Linked DNA regions of Homo sapiens: region 2 is linked to region 1. Evidence: fine-mapped expression QTL. A gene starts in region 1. The other region holds a variant in brackets. All regions are shown on one strand. Distances are between the middles of the regions. Region 1 holds the start of NDUFS6 (NADH:ubiquinone oxidoreductase subunit S6). Region 2 has its middle 25 kb from the start of LINC02116.

The links. PIP is the estimated chance that this variant, and not a neighbour inherited with it, causes the effect. A credible set is the group of variants that fine-mapping cannot tell apart.
Region 2: its variant is the best candidate, but not a certain one, in a credible set for the expression of NDUFS6 in whole blood (TOPMed, PIP 0.62).

Annotation. Positions count from the first base shown.
Region 1 is chr5:1,800,117-1,802,850 of GRCh38, reverse strand. It overlaps NDUFS6 (NADH:ubiquinone oxidoreductase subunit S6), which reads right to left and starts at 1,444. Exons shown (of 4, transcript NM_004553.6): 1 at 1,302-1,444; 2 at 477-530. The coding sequence starts at 1,433. It also overlaps a transcript of MRPL36 not described here. RefSeq lists enhancers at 1,065-1,204, 648-1,635, 1,815-1,944, 2,005-2,054.
Region 2 is chr5:1,829,691-1,832,706 of GRCh38, reverse strand. No RefSeq gene overlaps it. Among named protein-coding and RNA genes, the nearest start is that of LINC02116, 25 kb to the left of the region's middle. RefSeq lists enhancers at 147-840, 841-1,534. The variant T/C (reference allele first, on the strand shown) is at 1,313.

The DNA.
Region 1 (2,734 bases):
TGAACTGATCTTCCCTTACAATGCATAGAGCTAACAGACCCACTAAGGGAAGAAAAACTCATGTGCCATTTTCAGCTTGTCAGTGTAAGTCCCTGTAAAAAACACACACTAATTTATTTGGTGAAAACTATAAAAAACACACCTCCAGGTGGTTAAAAGAATAATTTTTTTAAAGTTGATATGATTTACTTAAATCTGAGAGTCTCAGGAGAATAAGGGACAAGAATTTTAAAAAAGATCACTTCCATTTATATGCAAACCAGAACTACGGCTACAATGTTATGTATTTCAGGGGGAAACAAGTCAGAAATAGACACAATTAAGATTTTAAGAAAGGAAGAACCCCATCCAGAACTGTTAGGGTGCTTGCAATATGGGGAAAATTTATTTAAATCTTATATATTAATTTTTATTTCTTGTTGGTTACATAAAAGTTTTAGGAAAGCTTACCTCTCTTCACTAGATTTTTTACTCACCTCTTTCTGACGACCTACAAACCGAATTCTCCTGTAGTCTTTATCATCATAAACCTGGAAAAAAACAAAAAGACCATGTGTGACTTTTACGGCCTAATTCTGAAAGTCACTTCATATCAATCATAAATATTACAGGAAAGTGTTTTTCTTAACTTTTAGGCCATTGATGAAAAGTCAAACAAGTGCACAGTACTCGGTGTAATCAGGGGCATTTTTAGCGAGATACCTGGGATGAAAACGGGTGGTCACCTGGATCAGAGAGCAGCACAGAGACATAGCCCGGGAAGGTGGAGCTAAGGAGGAGAGACAAATCCTGACCGAGGAGAACCGCCCCCAACCTTCTTTGGCATATGGCCTGAGAGCTTTACTATCCCCCCATTAAATCTACTAGGGCACATTCCAGTATACACAGGTACCTTTGTTCTTCATTTTGGCTTAGGGCTTTTTTGTGCCTTGGACTACAACCGACTTCTCAGGTTACTAAAATTTATTATTGAATATTACACAAATTCTAAACGTTCTGACCCAAATAATCGGCTGCCACAAATCGCCTATGGGCAGCCAGTCCACAGCAAGTGCTGCCCGCTGGGGAGACTTCCCGTTCCAGAGCCCGCAGGCCCTGGAAGGACGAGACCCACCGCTACAGGCTGCCACCACCGTCCCGACTCGCGGGCGTCCTCCCCGGCGCGTGAGCGACAGCACAACCTTACCACGACCTGCGCTGCCGGCGCAGAACCAGGGCCGCGGATGCCCGGCGAGCCCACTGCCACCAGTCGCCCGAGGTGCGGCTGGAGGAAGGTGCATCCTGTACCCAGCGGCCGTTACCTGGCCAGTGTGCGTGACCTTCTCCCCGGTCGGCGAGACCCGCACCCCGAAACACCTGGCGCCCAGGGGCAGGCTCCGCGCCGCCTCGCCACACCGGTTCAGCAGCCGGCAGAAGGTCATCGCCGCCGCCATTTTGCGCCGCTGGCCTTTGACCCGGCGCAACGTCCCGCTTAGCGCTAACGCATGCGCACGGCTTCTGGCGGCGCCAAACACCCGGTATTTATTTCGCCCTGGGGGCGGGGAGCGCGGGTCGGGGCAGAGGGTGCGCCGGAGCTGCTCTCTGATTCAGGTGGTCACCCGTTTTCATCCCAGGTATCTCGCTAAAAATGCCCCTGATTACACCGAGTACTGTGCGCTTGTTTGACTTTTCATCAATGGCCTAAAAGTTAAGCGGCCCCGTTGCGCCGGCAGGTGCAGCCTCATGCAGTTGCAGCCGCAGGCTAGAGCTAGGGCCCTGATGAGGCAGGCAATGGTGTGCGAAACCTTCAGCGATTAGGAGTACCCAGTGGTTCTTATTTAGCGGACAGGCAGGGGAGGATGTAAACTGAAAATACATTGTTTATATTCTTATGGTAACCGATAATCATGAGACATTTAAATATCAAAATTATTGGGTGAAGGAGTCAACTGCTTAGCAGACGAGACTGGAAGTGCATTCTCCTCGTTCAAGGCAAGCGTTCCTGTGTGTGGTTACGGGGAGCCGCAGAGGAAACGTATATTGGGGATTTCTGCAACAAAGCCTAGTACACCGACTGATTTTACAGCATGCAAATACAGCCTCTAAAAAGGCCCGTTTTGCTTAGAGTTGACTTGGGTATAAATCCCAGCTTAAGCTCCAGCATCCAGCTTTTCTTTTGCTGTGGTCAGAGCCTGAGGACCACGTGACTCCAAGAACAAAACACTAGAGATGGATGAGTGGCGGGGAAGATGATAAAGAGGAGGAAAGGCATGAGAAACAAGAATGCACATGAAAACCTCCGGTCCCAAAGATGTCCCAGCAAACGTGGTGGTCAGAGGCAGATTTGTCCTGGAGCTGATAAACTCCAGCGGCCCGCCCGGTGTTCGCCGGGTCAGGTGGAAAAAGTGGGCGCTGCGATGAAGCGTTGGGGCCTGCAGGGAGCGCGGAGTGGACGCAGCCACGTCTGCAACTCACCCGGACACACACAAAAAGGAAGGCGAATGGAGTTACGGGTAGATACCTGAAAAGGCAGGGATAAGCGAGCTAAGGGTAGAATCTAGGTGGCAAGTATATGGGTGTTCACCGTACAGTTCTTTCCCTTTTTCTCTATGTCCGAAGTTTTTCATAATGTTGGGGAAAACAGCCGTAACCAGTTGAAACTACTGCCCGTCTCCACTCGTTTCCCGGAGCCTGTTTACATTTCTCCTGTCCACTTAAAAACATGTCCTCTTTCTCAGTTTGTTTTGACATTGGT
Region 2 (3,016 bases), 30 kb before region 1:
GTCTGAACATGGGTCAGATGTACTCAGAAGGGGCCACCGGGATGTGTTCCTGGCCTCAAGCACACGGTGTCCTGTGTGGGGACAGTTTATCGCTGCTCCTGGCACTGCTCACACCGCGGCACGTGCAGGTTGCGTTTTGCCTTCAGTTGAGCCCTGGGCGTGCCCGGGGGGTTTCTGAGGTTTCTTGGGGGTCTGGGCTCTCATCACGTAAACAAACAGCTCAACGGTCTAGCCAGGAAGTGTGAACCCAAGTCAGGTGGGATGAGGGCTACTTTAAACAAACAAGCTACTCTGTTTTGTTTTGTTCTCATAGGGATTTACTTTAAGTATTTCTAAACATAGCTTTTGGAAGATTGTGGTTTTTTAGAGAAATAACTAATTTTATGATTCAGACACTACAGTTTGGTTACAAACTCACCCGTGTAGTGGAAACAGATGCCTGTAATAGGCTCTCGGAACCGCAGGTGCCTTTTAAGTGAGAAGGAAGGAAAACAGCAAGGAAGTTTCCCTTTGGATGCCTCCTCCCGGAATCCCTGCGGCTGGTGATGGTGAGCACACAGAGGTGCCATCCTCTCCTGCCACAGAGCTGATGATGGCTCTAGGGTGAGGAGCGACTCGATCTCCCTCCTGACCTGACTCCTGAAGCAGCCCTCTTGGTGCCCCTGCAACAGCAGGAGTGGAAGCACAGCCCACTCCCGAGGGAGACGGCACTCTCTCAGGAAGGAGGCAGCCCCAGCACCCCTGCGGGCCTCAAGGACAGATTCTCAAGTCCCCCTGACCAGACAGAGATGAGACACCAACACCCAGAGCTGCCCGAAGCATTCCAAGAAGCTGGAAGGACCGGGTTTTCTCCACAGAGGCCGGAGGCAGGGAAGGTTCAGCCCAGCAAGGAGCTGGCAGGAGGAGGAGCCGGGGGAAGGGGGCTGGGAACAGGGAGGGGCACAGAGAGGATGGAGAGGGTGTCCCCTCCAAATCCCTTTCCAGAGCCACCTGCTCCTGCTGCTTCAGCACAGCCAGCCCCAGAGTGCCTCTCATCCACAGCGCCAGGCCCCAGGCCCCAGGCCCCCTCTGGGGATCTCCTTCCATCTCCCCTGCCCCAGCAGCACCAGGGAAGATGCCTTTCTGGAATGTTCGCCTGGGCCTGGAGGGAATTTCACTCACACTAAGTGACATCTTTTCCTATTAGAAAACACACAGGGAGTGGAAAGTACTGGCGCAAGCACACACAGTTCTGGAAGCGACCCATCGTGGGCCGGGCACCTCCAGGGCGCTCCACGGCCATTCTCACGGCAGAACAAGCTCCATTCATTAA[T/C]GAGGGCGCAGTAACTCACTTGGAGTATGCAAATGTGTTTGCAGAGGAAAAAGGCATTCTCAACAGTATATAATAAAATTAAATTAACAGAAACATCAGCAAAATCAGTGACACTAATAAAGTGCCTCCCGTCCCCGCACTCAGGGGAGAGGCCAGGAAACACTGAAACACACCAGCCTGCAAGCAGCACCACGACCAACGACCCCTAAGTACTCTCAGTAAAATAACGAGCCACCCAGGAAAATGAAGGCGAGAAATGAGAACTGCTGGGCTCCACCAGGACTGTGCTGGACATTTGTTTCCGAAGTACATGTCCCATGAAGAGATGACAAGACAGGGAGCAGTCGGCCCTGGGGGGGTTGTCAGGTGAGGCTGTCGCCCAGCACAGGGAAAGGGCCACCTTCCTGGGAGCCCAGATTCCAAGAAAACAACGCACTCTGCTTTAAATGGTCAGCGTGTCTGGCTTTCGTTCTGATGCGTCCACGCAGCGCTTCCATCAGCGCCCAGAAGTCAGGTCCACACATATTAGAAAGAGCCGCAGAGATGGAGAAGGAAGCAGAGGTGGCTACAGAGAGTGGGAGGGAAGGAGAGGGCTGTAGCCTGCCTCTGCCGGCACTGGGGAGGAGGAGGGGGAGGAAGAGAAGGAGGGATGAGGGAGGAAAAGTGGAGGAGGGGGAAGTGAGAGGAGGGGTGGGGAGGGGAGGGCCAAGGGCATTGGGACCACTTCTGGTGCCTGTGGAGGTTTCTTCTGGTGAATCTCCACCTTCAGCGTGAACTTGCTTTTCTCTGTGAAGCTCTATGCAGGTATTATAGCAATGCAAATAGTGGCCTAGGAACAAAGTTTTCGGATATCAAGAGTAACTCAGAACCACATGCCAGACCATGAAATCACGACTCACATGTTTTGGGGGAAATAAATTGTGACCTTTATTTTGAACATTTACATGAAATAAATGAATGCATTGCTAATTGTTAACCAGATGAGAAGAACATGAGTGAGACTGTATAAAGACTCAGTGGAATGCATTTGACTGAAGATGATGGTCAATATGAGAGTTACCAAACACAGCCCTTCCCTGGTTTAAATGGACAGTGTGCAGACGTTTCCTCTTTTTATCTGTCAAAAACATGGACGCTATCAACGTGCTTCATGTGATTTTTAGAGAACTCCATTTAATAAAAAGGCATGTCCCACGAAACACAGAGAAATCCCCTTATAACCCTGAGTTCAGAGGACAATCAACATCTTCAAGGAAATTACGCGACACCAATGCGTTACTGCACATTTTTAGAAGGTATTTATTTTCCTACTTAACACATACTTACATTTTGCTCGCCCTGGCCAAGTGTTCTCACAAATGCTTTGTAGATTTTAAACATGTATATAATTGGGGAAGAAAACTGTCCCTAAGTGAACAAAATAAAATCTCCTCAAGAGAACAAACACATCTTCAAAGCTGCAGTTCTTAAGGGTTTCGGTCTCAGCATCCCTTACAGTTGTAAATATTACTGAGGACCCTAAAGAGCTTCTGTTTATGTGGGCAATGTGCGTTGATATTTACCTTATTAGAATTAAAACCGATCATTTAAAATATTTATTGCCAGGCGCGGTGGCTCACGCCTGTAATCTCAGCACTCTGGGAGACCGAGGCAGGTGGATCACGAGGTCAGGAGTTCGGGACCAGCCTGACCAACATGGTCAAC